Homo sapiens: one gene and its partner. The protein of the gene in region 2 interacts with the protein of the main gene of each other region in a pairwise test. Each region holds a gene or a part of one and is shown on either strand. Other genes may lie near its edges. The genes, in order: PRR20C and TBX3.

Region 1 (4,310 bases), on a different chromosome or scaffold from region 2:
AGCCAACAACAGCCTACCTAATAAAATACAAAATACAAAAGTTCATAATACAACATTTATCAAACTCTGAAAAGATGGGAACTAACTCAACTTAAACATCTAAGAGACACCTACAGCCAACATCTTGGTTAATGGTGAAACATTCAAAATATTCCCATTAAAGCCAGGAGGAAGCCAAGGACACTGCCGTCAAATTACTGATTCCTGGTTTAGCGGTTCCAGTGAGTCATGCACTCTCCTTGCTTCCGTTAACCGCCCCCCCCCCCACCCCAACACCTTTTGTCTGATTCGTCACATGTCCTTTGATCCCCTTTTTCCTCAATCTGTTTGAAATTTTACCTTCTATTCCAATTCATTTAGTGGTTCCCAAAGGGTACCCACGTTGAGACTTAAAAATGTGTCAGTCTAGATTTTTATTGCTCTTATATTCAGCCAGTCTATCGTCTCCAGGCACTAGAGAAGCACTTTAGTAACTTCTAGCTCCTTCTGAGTTTTCGCATGTCCCACATGTCTATATGAGTGTCTTCTGGAATTTTAATTCTAGGTCATCAATCCTTTTTCCAGAATCGTACTTCTCTGGACTTAAGAATACAGTTTCCTAATTTCCATGCTTAGTGATCCTTGTTGCATCCCACTTCTTCCAGGTTGTCTGGGTTGGCTTCTTCTTGGCTGAAAAACGTGACGTGTACTTTCACTGTACATGACAGTTCCATTCCAATCGCCTTGTACAGAAAGGGTGTTTGGCAGCTTGCATGTTGTAAGTTGCGTACTCCAAGTTCAGGGGAAGCTCAGGCTTCAGGTCCAGTCGGGGGAGGAGTGGAGCAGAAGTGGGGCTGGGGGGAACGTCCAGGTGGAAGGAAGGGAGGCTGGGAACAACGTGGGTGGCAGATAGTGGTCAATACGCAATGTCGGTGAGGAACACTGGGACCCCTTGCACGTAGGTGCCCTGGGGGGTTTGAATGACTTGTAAAACCGCTGAGTCACCCAGAGCCCTAAACCCGATGCAGGGATAGAGGGTCAAGACGGGTTGCCAGTCAACAGCCTGAGGCCCAGGAGCAGCGGGCGGCTCCTGAAACCCCAGCTCAGGTTGCGCCACGTCGGGGCCAGGGCCTTCCTGCACAGTTCCAGGCGGAGGACCTGTTTCAGAAAGGGAGAAGGCTGCGGTCTCCGTGATTTCCGGTTCCCCCTGGTGGCCTGGCTCTCCATGGTGGTCCAGTTGGATGTGCACGTCCGGTGCCATCAAGCCTTCTGCCCCCTGTCTCTGGCCAGCGTCCCCGCGGGGCCCAGCCCTTCTGCCACGGCCTCGCCCTGGCCGCCGGCTTCCTCCCCGGCGCCGGCCTCTCTCTGCAGGAGGGGGTGACTCTGGGCGAGCTGGGGGCTGCCGTCTGAAGGGTTTCACGTAAGCGATGGGTTTTGCGGGTTGGGCTGGCTGTGCGGGCCCATCTGCTTCCACGGAGCCTTCAGGGTCCGCAACACAGCAGCCTGGCTCTGGAGGAGGCCCACCTGAGGCTAAAAGAGAAGCGGAGCGTGAGCAGAGAGAGACAGAAGGAACTTCACCCGTCAAGCAGTTATAGGATACTTTTACAAATAAATACTCAGAGAAAAGAGGGATTTCTGAAGTTAAAATTGTGAGAGAAGAAACAAAACTCTCCACGGAAGTTGGAGAATGAAGTTGAGAAGGTCTCCCACAGAACAAAGCAAAAACCTAAAATGATGGAAAGAAGGATGAAATATAAGAGAATTAGAGGTATGCTGTGGCTGAGACATTTCACCAGAAAATTTCAGAGTGCTGAGGAAAAAGAGAAGATTCTAACAGATTCTAGAGAGCGGGAGACAGAGAAAGGAAAAGTCACATGGAAAGGGCTAGGATTCCACATGTCTCAAAAGTCAGACATCTCAAAAGCAGCAGTTCAGTCTAGAACATAACAGAAAATGTCTTCGAAATTTCAAGGGAAATGAATTTCCCACCTAAAATTTCCTGTCCAACCGAAGTTTCGCTGAAGAATCTGGGAGGGGAGAATGAAGATGTTTCAGACAAGCAAGATGTTAAAGAATTTCCTTTCAGTGGATGCTTTATTGTTATGCATCTGTCAAACTAGACAAGATTAAAAGATTTAGGACACTCAGCGTATGAAGGGAAAAGTTTTGGAGAACAACGTGGCAACAGCCGGAAAATTCCAACTCCTCCGGGAAAGAACAAGGTGGAAGTACCGGTTTATCATAGATCAAGACGTAGCGTGAGGACTCGCTCTGCTACGGAGAAACAGTAATACAAAACTAAACAGAAGGAAACAGCGACAACAACAGCAAATCTCAGATTTGGGAAATGGGATTACGGTTCGGAAGAGGGAAAGGAATTTCCCAGATGATGTGGAACCCGGGAGCTGACTTCCAACAAGCAGCCCAGGTTGAGGCAGGCTAGGAGAAGGTGAAACAGAGAATGCTTGATTGAGTTTGAGTGTCAACCATTGGGGAAGAATTGGGGAACAGACGAAATTAAAAAGAGAGGAGTGGCAGGCGTTTGATGTACCTTGATTAGGGGCCATGGAGCGAAGTCGCTTCGAAGGCCTTGGTTCCTCCATGAGCAATCGGCGGGAGGGGCTGGGGAGAAAAACAAGAGAGCAAGAACGGATTTAGGAAGACAGAGGTGACAAGGCAGGGGGATGGCCGTGGCCTTTCTAGGGGAATGAGGATTCTGTCCCCAACTGCACCCACCCGAGATCCGTCCACGCCTCCGGGACCCCCAGACACACACCTGATCTTCCCACAGCTGGCTCCGGAGATCTGAAAATTAGGAGACTCTTCGACGAAGAGAGGCCCGAGGAGTCGGAGGTGTCCACAGGTTCACCGCTGTAGCTCTGAGGTAGTCCACCCGCAGCCAGGGAGTCTGGAGGGAGCACGCAGCAGGTTCTGGCTCCGAGCCCAGCAGAAAGCCGACTGCTGGAGGCCGAGCGCCGTCCCTCTTATATGGCAGCAAGGCAGTCGCGTAAGGGACAGGCGTCGTCAGAGGGGGGCCGGCTGGGGCGGGCCTGGCTGGGCTTGCGAGGCGCATTGGGCCAGTCCCCTGCCAGTCAAATGGGGGCCCTTCTGAGATGCCGCCATTTCTAGACGTCCGTGGTTGATTGATTAATCTAATCATCGAGGAAAAAAAATTGCATAATGACCTCTGAGTGTCAGCACAATGAGGTGTGGTGCCCTGAAAGCGGCTGACAGGAAGATGCGATTAGCTTAGATCTGAGCATGGTCAAGGAAAGCATCCAAAGCGGGGATATCTGGGCTGAAATCTGGAACATAACGTTTGAAATTAGTCATCCTGAACCGGGTTGGGAGAGGCAGGGAGGGAGGAAGGGGAGTGAAGAGAGTGTGCTGAGGCCCGGACTGGAAGGGAGCCCGGCACATTCTGGGAATGGACGGGAGGCCAAGTCCAGGCCCGGAGGTGGTGCGAGGTGGAGGCAGGGTCCGCGCAGGAGCTGGTCTTGTTCCAAGGCAGCGGAAAACCGTGGAACGGTGTCCGGCAGCGGGTTAACATTTCAGAAACGACCAGCCTGGCTGTGAAGGAGCGCCAACCCAGGGTCCGCAGAATAAGTCAGGAGAGGCAAGAAGGCTATTGCAGCCCTCGGGGTTGGGCGCAGGGTGCTGTTAGACTGAGACTCAGGGAGGTAGAGGAGGAGAAAGTTCCCTGGTGGGAGAGAAATTTCCAAGAGAAAGCGAGACCCAGTGTGGACAGCCCTTGAGGAAGAGACTGCGGCCTTGGTAGCCCGCCGGTTCATTCAGGCAGAGGTGGACCGAGAACCTGCTCTGAACGGGAAGTTGCGGAGCTTGGCTTGCGCACATCTGGTTGAAGGGGCTTTTGAACTGCCAAGTGAGGATGTCAAGTGGCCTTTTGTAAAAAGAGTCGAGCTCAGCGCGATGGCGACGGGGCTGGAGATGCGTGTGAGACCCACACCGCTGGCTTTTATTGCTGTGGGTGCACTCACGGGTGGAGGAAGACAGCGGGAAACACAGCAGGACGCTGGAGGGGATCCCACAGTGGGTTATTTGGTTGGTTTGCATCCTTGTGTCTTTTACAGAGACGGGTTCTCGCTCTGTAGCCCAGGCTGGAGTGCAGCGGTGCCATCTCGGCTCGCTGCGGCTACTTGGGGGGGGGGGGGGGGGGGGCGGGGCGGGCTGAGATAGGAGAATCAGTTCAAGTGATTCTCCTGTCTCGGCCTCCGGAGTAGCTGGACTACAGGTGAGCGCCACCACATCGGGATAATTTTCGGATTTTTTTGGAGAGACGAGGTTTCGCTATGTGCCCAGGCTTGTTTGGA
Region 2 (4,542 bases):
CACCCGTAATCTTGGGTTTGATTTCCTATGTATCACATAATATTGAAACCAAGTCTAAGACTTTATATTGTGACTGATAAGCTTACATGTTTCAGAGTGAGGCAACTGGTTGCAAAATCGTTTTCTTCCACAACTAACGTATTAAATATTCTCAGTTTCGCCATATTTAGACGTCCCAAGGTTCAAAACAAATGCATTGTGGCACTGCAATTCTCTACATTGTCTAACAATTTCTTCAATATTTTTTTTGTCCTTGCTTGACTTTACAGATTGCCCTCCTGAGAGCAAATTCTTGCCCATGTCTTTTTCTGTGGGTATCTAGATCTAAACAGGTTGGGGTAAGATTTTTGTAAAGCGCGGTCAGTTAAGACTAGAATTTTCCACCACCCATTGATGAGAAAATGTTAAACTTATCAAGGAAATGAACGTCAAGTTGCACCCCTCCCTGCTGCAGAATAGCAATCCCGCTGTGGGCGAAGTGAAACTGGACTTCAGTGAGTTCCCAGAACGAATTTTGCAGACTTCGGTGCACTCCTGGGCCTGATAACCGATCTGCCCGTGGAGCTGCTAACACATTCCCCCACTTCTTAGGCCAGTCCAAAACCGCAAGACTGTGCCACCACATTGCTGTTAATTTCACAGAAGGGTTGGCATTCTGTAGTCTTGACTTAAAAGGAAGCAAGGAAGCACTTTGCTGGAAAACTGACTAAATGTCTTGTGAGTTTGAGGAGGATTTTATGCCAAACTTTGGCCTCATTTAGCTTGGAAGGAGACAGAACGCTTAAGATATCATGAAGGGGATTTTATTTTTGTATCAACTTTATGCCTTTACAGGCTTCAATGCTATTACAAAAAAAAAATCAGTGATTTTAAATGACTATTACAGGATCTTCTCTTCCAGGCAGGTTTTGGTCAGGCAAGGACCTTTAAACATTATGTAAAATATGGTTGATAATATTCACACATTAAAAAAAAGGTGTGTGTCTCCTCACTGGCTCCTTAAGTCTGCAAACATAATCTTAAATTATGCAAAATTGCCTGCTGAACTCGCCCTTGGGTTACAGACACGTGAAGTAGTGTGGGCAAACAAACCAAAATGCCCTTCGATTTCTCTCTGACCAGGGCAGCAGCAGGCCCCTTTAGACCCAGAGGCTAGACTGGAGGGCAGAAAGGGCCGGGGAATGGTGTCAGGCCTCCCAATACCCACACAAAAGGAAAGGGCTTTAAGTTTTTCTCTCTGAGAACAAAATAAAACAGACAACACAACATCAACAAAGAAATAAGGATGTTCCAGGAGGGTTTGAAGAGTGAGTTTCTTGCAGTAGAGTGCCTTTTTTTTTTTTCTTTCCTGCTCCCTGCAGGGATGTCTGTGCTCCACTGAAAAATTCTGTCTGTTCGGGAGGGAACCCAGGATGCAGACCAAATGCAAGACCCATGCAGATGCCCAGGTAAGCTGAAATTTCCTGCCACCGGGGCAGGGCCTGGAAGTCTGTGCATACATTTCTAGGGGAACTAACTTTTCGTCCAAGCCGTAATAACCGACCAACCGACTGTTCTGGGAGCAGAGAAATAAAGGGAGGAAAAAACTCTCCAACAGCTTAGGGGAGGAGGCCCCCACTGCTTACCTTCCCGACTTGGTAATGACCATCTCGGTGCCCCGCTTGTGAAACTGATCCCAAAGTTCTTTAGCCTCCAGGTGCACCTTGGGGTCGTCCTCCACCTCTTCTTCGGGCTCCATGGTCTTCAAAGGCCTCAGATGCGCCTGGGGCCCCAGGGAGGAGAACGGGATGCCGGTCTCGGCCGCCCCCACCAATTGATCCATGATCGGCTTGGCCAGGGCGCCCGGCAGCGAGAGCGCCGCCGCGCCGTTGGGAGGCAGCGTCAGCGCGGGGAAGAACGGCGGCTGGTGACCCAGCACCGCGCTCATGGCGAAGTCCGGCGCCCGGTGAGGTAGGAACGGATGGTAGGCCATGCTTGTCCCAGGAATGACCGGATCTCTCATGGAGAGGCTCATCCACTCCAGGCGGGGCGCTGGGCTCCAGCCGGGGACAAGTCCGCAGCTGCTGTGTTTTGTTGTTTTTTTGTTGTTGTTTAACAGCAGCACATAATTCAAAAGGGGGGAAAAAGCAAAACAAAAAAGAAAGAAAAAAGAAAAGGAGGCAGAAATCACAACTAATGCACTTCAAAGGGAGGAGGGGAAGTGTCTTTTGGAGAATGGGAGGCCGCTTTTAAAGAGGGCAAGGCGAAAAATCAGCAAACATAGTCGCGCGGGTGACCGTCCTTGTGCCTTGCGTTTTTAAAAAGCCGCTCCTGAACGTCGGTTTCAGAAGCGAGAGGAGCGAGCAGGGTCTCGACTCGCGCCCGAGCCCTGCCGCTGAGCTCGAAATAGACACTCCAGCCCTGCGTCCCAGGAATCTCTCTCCAGCCCCTAGGTCTTTTGTTGCAAATGTGAAAGGTTCTCCTAGAAGACTTTTTACCTTTCTTTTTCTTCTTCCCCCGCCCCCTATCTGTCTTCCTCTCCCTCTTTCTCGCTGGTGGCGTCTGCAGCTGTGCTAGACCCGGCTTTAACAGGGAGCGAGAGAGCGGAAAAAGTCTCTCTCCTTTAAAAAAAAAAAAATCTGATTTAAACCCCCTTCTACCAGCGCTATCAAAACTTGAATTGCAAACTGGCTTCCGTTCGCCGCCCTCCTCCTCCTTCCTCTGCTCCGAGCCTCCGGAGGGTGTCTCGGTTTCAATCCAAATCTTGCTGGGCTCTTCTCCCGTGCCTCTCTCTCTTCCTTGTCCTAAAACGTGAGCGAATTCGCTTCCTAAATCTGTGTCCAGGCGCGCAGGGCAGGGAGGATTTAGAGGGGGAAAAAATGGAACAGAGGGAAAGAGAGGGAGGGGAGAGAGAGAGAGAGAGAGAGAGACGGAGTCGGAGAGGGAGGGAGCGAGAGAAAGCGAGAGCTCCTCGCCACCCTCCGCCGCCTCTAGAATTCACCGGGCGTCTGCTCGGCGGCTCTAGAAGGTCGGGCTGCGCTGTGGGCTGCGGGGAGCCGGAGGCCTCTTGATTGGCTCTTTGACGCTTTCGGACCAATTGTGTTGCTGCATAGGCGTGGTTTTCACAGGTCGAGTGCTGGGGGATAGAGCTGAGTTATAAAAAGAAGGTGTCGGAAACTGTAACGTCGCAGCGCCGCATCGGTACTACTGCCTGTCCTGTGAATATGTCAACATGATCAGAGGGCGGGCGGGAGCCACTGGGGAGCGCGCGCGCACAGAGTCGCCTCTAGGTGGCTTATCGAGAGATCGCTGCAGCCCCTGAGCTCGCTCGCTCGCTCTGGTTCAGCCCACGTCTGAAATGCCTCAGTCATCCAGCCGGGGATCGAGGGAGGAGGCAGGGCCAAGGAGGAAGGGGGAGGGAGAGAGGGAGGGAGCCAGCGAGCAGGCGAGCCGGGCGGGGAAGGCGGAGAGCGCGCCCGGGCGCCGGGCAGGGGCGCTCGCCTCTCTTGCACTCCGCTCGCCTCTCCGACCGCCGCGGCCGGTTCTCTCTCCAGCTCTCCTTCTTCTCCCCGCCCCGGGCGAGCCGGGCGGGTGGCCGAGCCTCCCCGCGAGCTGCCATCCGGCCACTCGGTTCTACAAAAGCCGGCGGCAGCCGAGAAGCGAGCGCCGAGACTCCAGGCTTGCGTGCTCTCCAGCCCCACGTGGAGCCAAGCTCCGCCCGGCCGCCGCTGAAGGGCTCCCGAGCTCGGGTGTCTCGGTGCTGGTCTCCCCTGCGTCTGGGCTGGGGGAGCACAAGGATGCGGCCATATCTCAGCACACGCATGTGTGGGCTTCCTCTCCACTGCGCCCCACCCGCAGCCATGTGCGGGTACCCAAACACCCCCGGTGTATCTGTACTCGAACACGCGCCAACACACTGGGACTGAAACACACACCGAAAAACACGTACACACAAACACGTACACAGCCTGCGCGGCTGGCCCTGCCTGAGCTCCTGGGGAAGATGGATTTGGGATTTTTATGAAATGCATTTACCAGCCCTTTTGGATCTCGTCTTTCATTTGCATGCGGGCCCCCATATTCCACCTGGATGTGGGTGTGGGTGTAGAGAAGAGAATGGAGGATCTGGACAAAGCGAGCACAGCGAGAGACTGGGTTCTGAGCCTGTCCCCTCCAAGCCGCTGCCCTCACCTCGAGGCCCGGCTGGGTGCACAGCACAGGGTAAGGGGTGGGCGATTGGGTTGGGGGAGGCGCGCCAGCCTGGTATCTTCTCTAGGCATCGCACTTATCTCTCGGTGCCTCAGTTCTTTCTCCACCCCGGGGACTTAATCTGGCCAGAAGTCGGGGAGGGAGGGTGAATTTGTAAAACAAACCGTGAAACGCCCCCACCTCAGAGGCGAGTTGACTGTTTTTAGTACGGGTAGGGTGGGGGCCTCCTCTTAGGCGGACGGGAGGGAAACGACCGGATCTTACCAATCGCCGAATTACCAACTCTGTTACCGCAGCGCCCGGTCGGGGTCAGAGGATTCGCCTAAGCCCACAGTTCTTGATTCTGGGGGCCAA

What was found.
Region 1: the proteins of TBX3 (region 2) and PRR20C interact in a two-hybrid assay, tested with the Homo sapiens proteins (one large-scale study listed by BioGRID).

The regions. Positions count from the first base shown.
Region 1 is NC_000013.11:57,152,720-57,157,029, reverse strand, and holds the start of PRR20C (proline-rich protein 20C), read right to left. Parts: upstream 2,970-4,310; 5' UTR 2,756-2,969; intron 2,602-2,755; 5' UTR 2,583-2,601; coding exon 2,531-2,582; intron 1,510-2,530; coding exon 896-1,509; 3' UTR 1-895.
Region 2 is NC_000012.12:114,681,187-114,685,728, forward strand, and holds the start of TBX3 (T-box transcription factor TBX3), read right to left. Parts: upstream 2,990-4,542; 5' UTR 2,015-2,989; coding exon 1,626-2,014; intron 1,449-1,625; exon of another isoform or gene 1,106-1,448; intron 1-1,105.